Linked DNA regions of Homo sapiens: all the other regions are reported to be linked to region 2. The links are microRNA targets in miRTarBase. Many come from high-throughput screens and were not tested one by one. Region 2 holds a microRNA gene; each other region holds the end of a gene's coding sequence.

Region 1 (3,174 bases), not on the chromosome of region 2:
AATTTGGAAGTTCTATACAACTGAATACAAAGAGGAACAAAAAGTACCAAAACCAAACTTGTGATTCTCTGTTCATGTGGCATAAACCAGTTTTGTACATAACATGTAGCAGCAGTTTTTAAGTTCCCTTTAGAAAAATATGAATTCTACAAATTTATTATTGTTTCCTGTTTAATGCATGGGCTGAAATCACTAGGATCAATTTCCTTCTTGAAGAAAGAGGAGAGGAAAGAGACGAACAGAGGGTCAGAACGCATGGTGAATCTTCCAAAACTGGCATCCGACTGTTACGTAGCTTCCCCAGCGCTGCTTGGAACACAGCCCTCTGGGTTGTTTTGTTTTCACAGCCAGGTGTTTCATGTAGTGATTGAATCTCAGCATCATGTCCATTAATCAATGAGAAAAAAAAAAAAAAAAAAAAAAGAGAAAAAACTTGCACCTCAAAAAACTTTTCAGAAGATCCATATATATATATTTTTTTGTAAAAGCCCTGAGAGAAGGAGAAAGAGAATCAAACAAAATGTATAGAAACAAATTAGCTGGACATGCAAACTAAGCTATGATTCACCCAGAGTTTAAACAAATCACAAATTTCACAGTTTAATATTGGGGGGTGGGGGAAGGGCAAAAACAACAAACAAATAATACGTTTCTCCACCTCACTAATAAAATGTGGCAAGACCTTATTGACTACGAGGGTACAGATCAAGGCTAAGTAAAGCTTTAAATCAATAGTGATTATTGCGAGCGGCAGCCCCAGCTACACACGTCGCTGGGAGCTGATTACTGCTACATCTCACCGCAGCGTAGAGTTTAGTCACAGCTTCTCCCCACAATATTGCAAGTTTAGTGTGGAGAGTCGCAAAGAAAAAACACAAGAAACCCCAAATAATAATAACAACAAAAACAACAATAACAACTGTAATAATAATAATAATAATAATAAAAACCCTAAGGGATGTATGAACTGGTTTTAACTAAGTAGGCCAAGGGATCATTGGTTCTGATTTGCATTCATCTCTACAGTAAATAAAACCTCGTTTTTAAACTGGTTCATACACCCCTAATACAGTTAAAAATCATATATACCTCAACCTTTTTTCCTTTCGTATGCGAAGATATCACTTTTCATTATCTCAAGAATATCTATCTTCCTGTGAAGTCTGGGAGGTTGGATTTCAGAAACTGGTGAAGTGGCGGAGAAAAGGGGGCGTGCACGTTTCTGTGTGAACAAGTCTATGTAAAGGAGGAGCACTGGGGCCAGAAAAGGCCAGGGGAAGGAAGCTGGGGTACAGGGGTGCCTCCCCAGGGGAAGGCAAGAGGCTCCATACACTGCAGCAAGCACAGGGGTCCCCAGCAGCAGGCTGGCTGGGGACCCCTGAGGTCTTGGCTGAGGGACCAGGAGCTCAGGTGCAGTGGGGTACATTCTCCTCCCTGCAGGCGGAGACAGTGAGGGAAGTCTATTGCCTGCACAGGATGCTCATGGGTAAAAATAACCCTGCCTTTTTGCATCCAGGGGTGTGGGCTATTTAAGAAACTAGAAACAGCACATTTATCTTCAAGCACCAACCCCACATCGCAGGAAGGTAAATATAAACCTATTTCTTATCTGACATCTTGCATGTGTAGTTTTATTACCAGTAGTAGTATTTCCTTGCTTTGCAAATGACAGTAGCACAGCTGGGTAAGGCTTGGATTAGGCTTAGCAGGAAGACTGGGAATACCTCGCTCACGAGTAATGTGCCTGGTCACTGGGTCACTGCTTTGCTTTCTCCAAAGTCATCTCTGCAGTGCTCCAGGCACGGCCCTGGCTTCTTGATGCCTGTTCCCTGGATGCATGCATCCTCACTCCACCCTCTCTGAGCTGCTCCTGGACCATGCTTGGGAAGACTGCTCACGGCCCCTTCTAAATTCTGCAGTGACAGAAGAAAGGCTTGTCTCATTACAGTAGAAGAGCTACCACCCGAGGGTGCCAACCACAACCGCAGGCACACGTTAACACGGGGACCTGGGTGCGGCACAGGTCTCCCAGGACAAATATTGCCCATTTGATTCTGCTCACTGCAGAGAACAGCAAACTGATGAACTAATAATAATAATAATAATAATAATATTAATAATACATATACTGAAAGGGAAGAGGAGGCAATCAAATATATCCTATCCGTGCATGTTTTCCATAGGTTAAGACGCCAGGGGAGTAACTCTTCTCTATAGTTAAGAATGGATGTCTTGAAACTTGAACAGTGACCATGTCTAATGCTGACAGACTGGAAATGGACATGAGGCTGAAGCTAGAATCTTCCCTGGTTTTGGCCTGAAACCATATTGGAAACCTTCATCAACCACATCCTGTAATACCAAGGACCAGATGACAGCTCCACCATGAAGCACAAAGAAAAAAGGAAAATGTCTATTTAAGAAATTATCATCTTATCCATCTTTCCTCTGGTCATTTACATGAAATTCACATCATTTTCTTCCAGTTATTGGCTATGGGTACCCAAGGGTATGTTTTTTCCTTCTGTTTCCAGCTCACAGAACAAACGGTGCTATCACAGATTCACAAGAACAAGCTCACACACACCAATACAAAATAACGCTAATGCTCAAATGAAGAGGTCCTCTCCAGACAATTCATTATAATATTTGTTTTGTTTAAGAAGTCATTTTGGAAAAATACAACACCCATGATAATATGGAGGGATCCGGTAAGTAGTTAAGGCACTGGAATCGGCACGGGCTGTGGCCTCCCGCGCAGGCTGCGGTAAGGCTATGGCACTGAGCGAGCAGCCACGCTCCTGCTTGTCTCTCTCTCTCTCTCTCTCTCTCTCTCTCTCTCTCTCTCTCACTCCTCAACAGCCAAAGGGCACTGAGGAAACCCCATGAAGTATAGACGCTTTGCTCTGCTGGCTTTTGTCTGTGCTGAGGGGGACTGAGGCTGTCACTCCATCCCCACGAGCTGGGAGGCGCCATCAGCTGTGGCCAGGATTGGGTGGGCAGGCCTCTTGCTGCGCGGCTCCAGCAGGTCCTGCCCCAGGGCCGCCGGGCTCTCTGGGTTAAGGTCACCCTGGCCAGGCTCAGACGGCCACCCTGCCGTGACCTTCTCCTCCCTGTGGCTGCAGTCCTTGGTGGCACTGGCCAAGCCCTCCTTCCGGCTCCGGGTGACAGCCA
Region 2 (3,184 bases):
CACCATGCCTGGCTAATTTTTTATATTTTTAGTAGAGATGGGGTTTCACCATGTTGGCCAAGCTGGTCTTGAACTCTAGACCTCAGGTGATACACCCGCCTTGGACTCCCAAAGTGCTGGGATTACAGGCATAAGCCACTGCACCCAGTCAAAAATGAGTTTTTTAATGCAACATCACATAAAGTAATAACATAGACAATAAACGTTTACTGAATACTTAAATATGGGCTGAGCATTGGGTTGTTTCACATGGAAAATCCACACAACAGCCCTATAAGACATTAATGTACAAGAATAAAGGTGGGAAAAAGCCAAAACAATTTTGTAAAAACGAGAGAAATCAAGAGCTGCTATACCAGATCACAAAATACATTAATGTTCAATAATAAAAATAGTACTAGTTAAAAAAATAAAAAAAGGGAGACTATATAGCCCAGAATGATAATAGAACTTAATATCCTCCTTGTTACACTGGTGCTTTTTTTTTCTGAGAAAGGGTCTCACTCTGTTGCCTAGGCTGGAGTGCAGTGGTGCCATTTCGGCTCATAGCTCACTGCAGTCTCTGCCTCCTGGGTTCAAGTGACTCTCCTGCCTCAGCCACACAAGTAGCTGGAATTACAGGCATGTGCTGCCACGCCCAGCTAATTTTTGTATTTTTGGTAGAGACGGGTTTCACCATGTTGTCCAGGCTGGTCTTGAACTCCTGAGCTCAAGCGATCTGCCTGCCTCAGGCTCCCAAAGTGCTGAGGTTACAGGCATGAGTCACTGTGCCCAGCCTACAATGGTGCTTTCTAAATGAGTTTATATTTATGAGTGATCTTGTAACACACACAATTTTAATTCCTATGCAAACACTTTTTGCTCGTATTATACTAGGCAAGTGTGGTTAATAAATAGGAAAAACAAGTTATTTCACTGTGCTTTTTAATCTCAGCATCAGATTGATGTTGATATTCTGCTATCCTGTCAATACATTATCTAAAACAATAAAAACAGCTGCGTTTTATATATAAAAGTGGCTCCCACTGGGTACCGTGGCCCATGGCTGTAATCCCAAAGTTTTGGGAGGCCAAGCAGTATGAATTGCTTGAGGCAAGAGGATCAAGACCAGCTTGGGCAATACAGTGAGACCGCCTCTCACAGTAGTAGGGAAGACATAAGTAAAACTCAGTCATGACTGGCTTGAGTTGTTTAATGTTGGCACTAATTAGCACAGCAAAATGGGTGGTGCTAATCTTTTAATTTCCTGCTTGGTTTACGAATATTTGGATTATATTAGTGCAGTAATAGAGTTAGAGTACCTAGTTATAATTCCATATTTTTAACATCATCTCTAATGTTATAGCCTAGGTTTTCATTAGCATAGGTTTGTTATAGCATAGGTTTATGTTATAGCCTAGGTTTTCATTAATAAAATCTCTGGAGTGAAGCAGCTGCTGCTGAAATTTGGGGGCAAATAACTGCAGCCTGCTGGGAATAGGACTTCTAAAAGGAAGTATGTCTGGAAGGCTGTGGCCCAAGGCCTTTTCTGCTGGCTAAAAGCAGGGTCTCCAGAACCAAAGGAAACACACAGCTCTTGTTAAAATTGAAGATGTTGACGCATGAGGTGAAACAGAATTCTCTTTGGGCAAGAGATGTGCTTATGTACATAAAACAAAGAACAACACAGAGACTCCTGGCGGCAAACTAAACAAAGCCAGAGTAATCTGGGCCCATGGAAACAGTGGCATGGTTCGTGCCAAATTTCAAAGCAATCTTCCTGCTGAGACCATTGGACACAAAATCTGAGTGATGCTGTACCCCTCAAGGATTTAAACTAACGAAAAGTCAATAAATAAAAGCGGATTTCTGCTCTTGAAGAAAAAAAGAAAATCTCTGCAGTTTTTATAAAAATTAGTATCTATGACATTTAAAATTATATGACCCCACAGAAACTCAAACGTATCATTAAAGTGGCATTACAAAGTAAAGAGAAAAGGAAGAACAATTAATAGATTTCCTAAAGAGAAAAAAATCCAGTCAGTGTATTTCGAGGGCAAGGTTAAGCAAGATACGACGCACCTTGCTTAACCTTACCGTCCAAATACACTGACTGGAATCGTTGCTTTCTTGATGGAAAGAAAAAACTCAGTTGACCATATGAAAATAGGAACATTCAAGTACCATAAACATCTGGGGAAAAAAAAAAACCCTTTACTATGAAGACATATTAAAAACTTTTTTTTTTTTTGCTTATCCAGATGGCTAAGATTTGAGAAATTAAAATTCATGGCTGGCAAAGTTGTGACAGAATAGACACACAGTGGGGTATACGGTTCTATAAATTTCCTAGAGAACTATTTGGAATATTGTGAAAAAACATTAAAATGCTCATATACTTTGAGGAAAAAAATCACTCCTAGTAATTATAACAAAAAGAAACAACCTTTTATTGACAAAGAAAGATATTCACTCCAGGATTATTTATGAGGGGAAAAAAAGCCAAAACAACCTAAATATTCAATGGCAGAGAACAGTCTCTCTCTCTCTCTCTATAGCGTACACATATATAATCGTCATTTATGTAAATATGGTTATGTATACCATGATGGAATAGCATACCTCCACTGAAGTTTTAAAGACTAATGACATGGAGGAAAGCACACAGCATACAATAACTGAAAAGAACAAACCATTAAATAGTATATTTAAAATTTTAAGCACTAACTATAGGCAAGATGTCATGTTAATGTATTATATATTATTAAATCAAATTCCTTCTCAAACCCCCTGAATACATGCTATTTAGTATACGGTACTTTCACAGAAAAGAACATTAAAAGATGACATAAAAAATACTACCAGTGATTACTCAGGGTGGTGAAAATGCGGAAAATATAAAATTTTCTGCAATTTAGTTTTTTCCCACGAGCTTATATTACTTTACTTTTAGAAAAATGGGCTTAACATTAAGTTAACTAAATTCTGTTGCATCACAACTAGTGGGAAATTATTTTTTGGAAAAAAAACAAAACTTCACAATAGAGTCTGTGGTTAAATAACAAGGATTGTTTTTTAAAAACAAAACAAAACAAAAAACAAAAAAACCCCACAAAAATACTGTGCTGTAAATTATCCGAAATCAATTATAATTTAGAACAAACCATACTCACATAATTTTTTTTAAAATAGGCAATTGCTTTTT
Region 3 (3,148 bases), not on the chromosome of region 2:
TAACCATAGAAGTACTCATACCGGAGAGAAACCCTATGAATGTAAACAATGTGATCAAGCCTTCAGTCGCCTCAGTTCCCTTCACCTCCACGAAAGAATTCATACTGGAGAAAAACCCTATGAATGTAAGAAATGCGGTAAAGCCTACACTCGTTCCAGTCACCTTACTCGCCATGAAAGAAGTCATGATATAGAGGCTGGGTGTAGTGACTCAGCCTATAATCCCAGCACTTTGGGAGGCCAAGGCGTGTGGATTGCTTGAGCCCAGGAGTTCATAACCAGCCTGGATTAAAACAATGTGAAACAACCTGGGCAACATGGTGAAACCCTGTCTTTACAAAAAATAAAATAATGCCGGGCACGGTGGCTTACGCCTGTAATCCCAGCACTTTGGGAGGCCGAGGCGGGTGGATCACGAGGTCAGGAGATCGAGACCATCCTGGCCAACACGGTGAAACCCCGTCTCTACTAAAAATACAAAAAATTAGCTGGGCGTGGTGGCAGACGCCTGTGGTCCCAGTTACTCGGGAGGCTGAGGCAGGAGAATGGCATGAACCCGGGAGGCGGAACTTGCAGTGAGCCGAGATCGCACCACTGCACTTCAGCCTGGGTGACAGAGTGAGACTCTGTCTCAAAAAATAAGATAAAATAAAATAAAAAAATAATTAGCTGGGCATGGTGGCACATTGCAGTTGTCTTAGTTGTTTTTCAAGGACATGAAAAGCCGTGCGCAGCAGGCGGGGAAGCCCTGTGCATGCAGATCACGAGGTCGGGAGATTGAGACCATCCTGGCCAACATGGTGAAACCTCGTCTCTACTAAAAACACAAAAATTAGCTGGGTGTGGTGGCATATGCTTGTAATCCCAGCTACTCAGGAGGCTGAGGCAGGAGAATCGTTTGAACCGGGGAGTTGGAGGTTGCAGTTAGCTGAGATGGCACCACTGCACTCCAGCCTGGTGACAGAGTGAGACTCCATCTCAAAAAAGCCCTATGCGGCTGGGCATGGTGGCTCACGCCTGTAATCCCAGCACTTTGGGAGGCCGAGGTGGGTGGATCACAAGGTCAAGAGATCGAGACCATCCTGGCCAACATGGTGAAACCCTGTCTCTACTAAAAATACAAAAATTAGCTGGGTGTGTTGGCGGGTGTCTGTAGTCCCAGCTACTCAGGAGGCTGAGGCAGGAGAATCACTTGAACCCAGGAGGCAGAGGTTGCAGTGAGCTGAAATTGTGCCACTGCACTCCAGCCTGGCAACAGAGTGAGACTCCGTCTCAAAAAAAAGGCCTTATGCGTGTAAGAAATGTGGTAAAGCATTTACTCTTTCCCATTCCCTCATAAACATGAAAGAGCTCACACTTCAGAAAACCTTAAGAATGTAGGAAATGTGGTCAAGCCTTCAGATTTTCCTATTTTGAAGATTTGGGAGGACTCAGAGTGGAGAAGAGCCTTTTAAATTTAAATTTGTGTTAAGGCCTTCAGTTGTTTTAGTTCCGTTTGAAGACATCAACTCATTCCTGAGAAAAACCCTATGAATGTCCAGAATGTGGGAATGTTTTCATTTCTCTCATATCTGCTCAAGGACATGTGAAAATGCACACTGCAGCTGGACCTTGTAAATACAAAAATGTACACAGGATTACAACTAATATTTAGAAACTGCAAGAATATTTTCAGTTTTAACATTTATTTGAAAAGTCGTGAAAACTCCCACTGGAAAGAAGTTCTATAAGTGAAGTTTTTCTAATTTGGAAAGCCTGATGCAAATTAATTATCGTGCGGTGCTTGAAAAAAATGTACATGTATGAAATGTTACACAAGTTGCAAGTATATTGTTTTCATCAGTGGCTCATTCTTAAAGAGTCTTGAGTATGCATTTCACTTTATTTTGCAGGAAAACCTTGAGGTGAGAGTTCTGTAAATGCTTTTTAAGCAGTACTTGAATTTCATAGTAATGATACTTTCTTCAGTTTGTTGGTAGAATTTTTGTCTGTTCATTTGATAATGTGCTGGATTCATGGTTGAATTTTGATGTTTTTCTAATATGTAGGTAAGTTTAATTTTTTTATTTTATTATTATTTTTTTGAGATGGAGTCTCACTCTGTTGCCCAGGCTGGAGTGCAGTGGTGCGGTCTTGGCTCACTGCAACCTCTGCCTCCTGGGTTTAAGCAATTCTCCTGCCTCAGCCTCCCGAGTAGCTGGGATTACAGGCGCCCACCACTATGTCCAGCTAATTTTTTGTATTTTTAGTAGAGACAGGGTTTCACCATGTTGGCTAGGCTGGTCTTGAACTCCTGACCTCATGATTTGCCCCCCCTCAGCCTCCCAAAGTGCTGGGATTACAGGCATGAGCCACTGTGCCCAGCGGAGTAAGTTTAATTTGTATGTATTGTTCTGTGATTAATGGACCAGTGAGTAATGATTGCTAATTGTTGCGATTTTCTTACTAGCCTCACTTGGCAAATTTTGGTTATCCCTTGTCCATTATACACATTCCACCTTTTTTTATTAAAGGAAAAACTACTCTTGGTGTAAAGATGTTTATTTTTTGCTAATAATGAGTTGGTATTAATTCCTAAGTACATAAAGTTTATCATAGAGTATCATCTCGTGAGTTCTTTGCATTTGTTGCCCTTTATTCTTTATTATTTCTGTCTGTTATTTGCATAGTTCACTTTGAATGAAGGAGAGAGAACTGTGATAGGACAATATGTTGTAACCAGTCTGAGGGAGGAAGCATTCAGTCTCACAGTCACATGTGATAGCGTTGGGTTTTTCATCAATGCCTTTGGTATTGTATATAGTATTACACCGTTACGGTATTATAGTTTGTGTATTTTACAGTATTACAGTCTTACCAGTCAGTGTCACATGATTCAGTTCCCTACCAGCCAACAGACAAACCAATCACATACTCCTGTAGGAACAAAGGAACATCCTCACTTTTTTAATGCTGTACCACTCTCTGCTCCCAAGTTAATCCCTGTTTGGGCCTGTGGGAGCTTACACCATCCTCCTGTATGTAATTAATAACTGATGTTTAGTTTATCTGTTTAGTAATAGATGTCATGTGTTTAACGGTACCAGTAGACATAGGGTGCTAATTCCTTCCTCACCAATGGGGTGCATGAGACGCTATTGAAACAATT
Region 4 (3,184 bases), not on the chromosome of region 2:
TTTTTCTTAATAATAATAGTTTACTAGTTATATATTTCCAAAGCTCATCTTTTGATGTGAAAACTCACACTGGAATAACCTTTTTAAATATGGCATTAACTGAGTATATATAGTACCTGGGTTTATGTAGGTCATTATTAGCTAGGAAGTTTTTTCAATCCCTGAATGCTAATGAAAGTGGTTTGATGTTACAGGAGTACAAGCGCAAGCTAGCCAGAGTTTCCCTGGTGCGCAAAGAACTCAGGTCCCGGATCCAGAGCCTGCCAGACTTATCTCGATTGCCCAATGTCACTGGCAGCCACATGCACCTGCCCTTTGCGGGAGACATCTACAGTGAAGATTGATGGACCAGCCTCTTTCCAGGTCCCAGGACTTTGCAAGAGATGGAGACAGGTTAGGTGGATAGTCCTGTAGTGTTATTTTTGTATATTGTTGAGAAAGAAACACTAACAAAAGGAACAACGAGTAATTTATAAAATTGTTTAAAATGTTGGTTTGTTTACTATTTTATTGGTAAATTAACATGACTTAATTTGAACAAAGTGATGATTTGTGTGTATTAATAAGCTCACAAATAGTGATTATTTTCAAAAGATCTTTTTGTAAATTTTTTTTTTGATCCAAGGCCTTGTGAGAAATCTCTTGTTTGTATTTCTTCAGGTATTTTCAATTGTTTTTCTTTATTTTCTTCAGCATTTAATCACTGTATACTATGTAATTCCTGAAGGGGAAGAACTAATTAGGAGTTGATTGAGACTTTATTATGGTATAGTTAGGACTTGATTGTAGAAGGGACTAAATGTTCCAACATAATCTTTACCCTTCTCCCCAAACAAAATATCAATTCTGTGTCTCTACATGCCTTTGATTCCTTAGAGGTCGGTAATTTAACATAAAACAGGGATGTCACTTTGAGGGGCAGATGAAAGTCTAGAGAACTGTTCCTTAATAGCATTGTAAAAGTTCCATTCCAACTGCCAGTGTAGATTTTAAAAGTGTTAAATAGTGACTCCCTTGATTAAACTGTTTGTAATTATTTGAGTAGATTAATAATGAAAATACTTTGGAAATAATATACATTTTGACATTCTACCAAGAGGACAACTTTGGTTCTGGAACTGGTTTCTATTTGTCAAATCAGTTTCCTTTTAACATAATTAATCCCTTTAACAAAAAGCCGTCTATGGGATTAAAAGACACGTGAAATGATACTTTTATTATTCCCTTGCTCATATAACTTTAAAAATAATACTTTTAGCTCTAATAGCTCAAGAACACAATATTCGTTAATGTTCAGTAAAGTAGCCTGAGACATTTTCAATGTTTCCTTAAGGTTTTTGAATGACTGTATATTTGGCAGTTAAGCAGTGCCACACTACAGGGTAGATATGGTAAATTTTATATTTGTATATTTACAGTTACAAAACAAATGTACTTTTACCTTTTATTTCTGACCCTGTGTGTTAGAGCAGTTGCATGCTCTCCTGCTGTTAAAAACACATTGTTAAGCTGTGGATTTGTACTCAATAATGACTTAGGATAAACATTTATTTTCATTCATTGCTTTACATACTAGACATTTTTCTTCTCTTTGTAAGTAGATTCAAATTAGATAGTCAATAAAACATCTTGAAAATCCCACAAGCCAATTATGTCTCTCTAGTCTGAATGGCTTCATTGTTTCTTTCTCAGTATTAGAAATTATAGTTACAATGAATTGCATATGAAGAAGGCAGACATTTATTTTTAATAGCCAAGTAGTTCTGCAAATAGTTCTTTTAACAATTTGACCTCTCTCCAAAACAGAGACACATATAAGTAGTGCTCATCCATGCACTACTAATAATACATGGCTTATTCCAAAGTTTTTAGTCAACTTTTGGGACTTGGGGTGCATTTTCTCACAGAAAGAATAGTAGTTAGGTTCCCTAACACTACCGCTGATAGCTCACCTGGGAACTGAATCCACCTAACCATGAATGTCCTTCACTTGTAACGTGGTTCACAGGTTACTAATCATAGATCCTGACCAGCATTTGTAACACTGCTCTAACTAGGACACAGCATGCAGCAGCCACACTCACACCCTGGGATGTCTGTGTACCTCTGTCCCTAGGTGTAGGAAATGGAAGAAAAAGATTCAGCCAAGTGGGGAGGTGACAGATGCACAATTATGAAACCTGGTTGTACATGTTATGAAAGTATACTAAGTAAGTTAGTTTTTATTATTAATGTGAAAGCAAAAACTTGTATGTTAACTTATTTTCAATATCTTGACCTTATTTATGATCTGCTAAAGTGGTGATTTATCCATTCAAAATATATATTTTTTTCCATTTAAAACTAATTTATAAACTATGTACTCCTGGGAAGATTTGAAATCTTTTAGAAGTTTGTTGAAATATTTTCACCATTTCAGACAGACTTCTGACTTAGATACTGATTTTAATGCCAGTATCTGCTCTAAATATTTATGATAAAAATGCATTATTTTTTTAAAGAGCTTGATGAGATTTGTGATAAGTGATAGTACTCAAAAACCTGAATCCCACCCCTCGACCAATCCTCCACAAACTTCAGTTGTTGGTTAACGTATTAACTGAACACAGACAATACAGTCTGATTTAGAAGTCATCTTTTCAGCCGTGTGATAATTAACATGGTAAGCCTTAGCAGCAAACATTCTTCCTAAAAGGAAGACTTCATTTTCTCAAGAAATGGGATTAGTTGGGGGTATTATAATACCAAATTGTAAATCATGAGCGTTTTCTCCACTGTGCACCTGAGGCAGATCATGCATCTTTGAGTGCAGTTTGGTCTGACCCCTCAAGAGAAAAGCATGGTGCCGTAGGGCTGCTATGGTTTGAATGGATGCCATCACTCTTTTCTCCACATACAGTGCAGAGAGCTGTCTGGAGTCACAATCTGAACAGATTCTCGGGCGCTCCTTCTCTCCTTCCATCACTACAGTAAGTAAAAGGACCATAGAGGGGAACCAGGAATCTGAGAATCAGCTGTGCTCAATAGCCAACCTCCCTGTCCAGATGCAGCTATTTTGGTATCTCCTATCACATGCACTCTGAATCAGGGTTTTTCTATAAGAAATCTTTCAGAATCAGCAAAAGTGGGGATGACCCAGGCATCTTGATTTGCAAAATCACAAAACTAAGTTGTCAGTTATCAC

Evidence for each region. The annotated mature microRNA hsa-miR-4804-3p reads UGCUUAACCUUGCCCUCGAAA and lies in region 2 at 2,028-2,048, opposite strand. An mRNA with a match to its seed (bases 2 to 7 or 8) in the 3' UTR can be bound and repressed. Matches are read on the target gene's strand: a 7mer-m8 pairs with bases 2 to 8, a 7mer-A1 pairs with bases 2 to 7 and ends in A, and an 8mer does both.
Region 1: miRTarBase lists RREB1 as a target of hsa-miR-4804-3p. The part of its 3' UTR that is shown has no 7-base or 8-base seed match.
Region 3: the mRNA of ZNF669 is a reported target of hsa-miR-4804-3p. The part of its 3' UTR that is shown has no 7-base or 8-base seed match.
Region 4: the mRNA of RPRD1A is a reported target of hsa-miR-4804-3p. Seed matches in the 3' UTR shown: 8mer at 1,360-1,367 and 7mer-m8 at 1,504-1,510.

The regions. Positions count from the first base shown.
Region 1 is chr6:7,248,739-7,251,912 of GRCh38, reverse strand. It overlaps RREB1 (ras responsive element binding protein 1), which reads right to left. Exons shown (of 13, transcript NM_001003699.4): 13 at 1-3,174. The coding sequence ends at 2,945. Among named protein-coding and RNA genes, the nearest start is that of SSR1, 63 kb to the left of the region's middle.
Region 2 is chr5:72,877,499-72,880,682 of GRCh38, reverse strand. It overlaps MIR4804 (microRNA 4804), which reads right to left and starts at 2,092; the gene lies at 2,020-2,092. All of the region lies in intron 9 of TNPO1 (transportin 1), which reads right to left. It also overlaps the pseudogene RPL35AP13.
Region 3 is chr1:247,097,488-247,100,635 of GRCh38, reverse strand. It overlaps ZNF669 (zinc finger protein 669), which reads left to right. Exons shown (of 4, transcript NM_001142572.2): 4 at 1-674. The coding sequence ends at 262. Among named protein-coding and RNA genes, the nearest start is that of ZNF669, 5.3 kb to the left of the region's middle.
Region 4 is chr18:35,990,311-35,993,494 of GRCh38, reverse strand. RPRD1A (regulation of nuclear pre-mRNA domain containing 1A) reads left to right here. Exons shown (of 7, transcript NM_018170.5): 7 at 195-3,184. The coding sequence ends at 344. Among named protein-coding and RNA genes, the nearest start is that of RMP24, 19 kb to the right of the region's middle.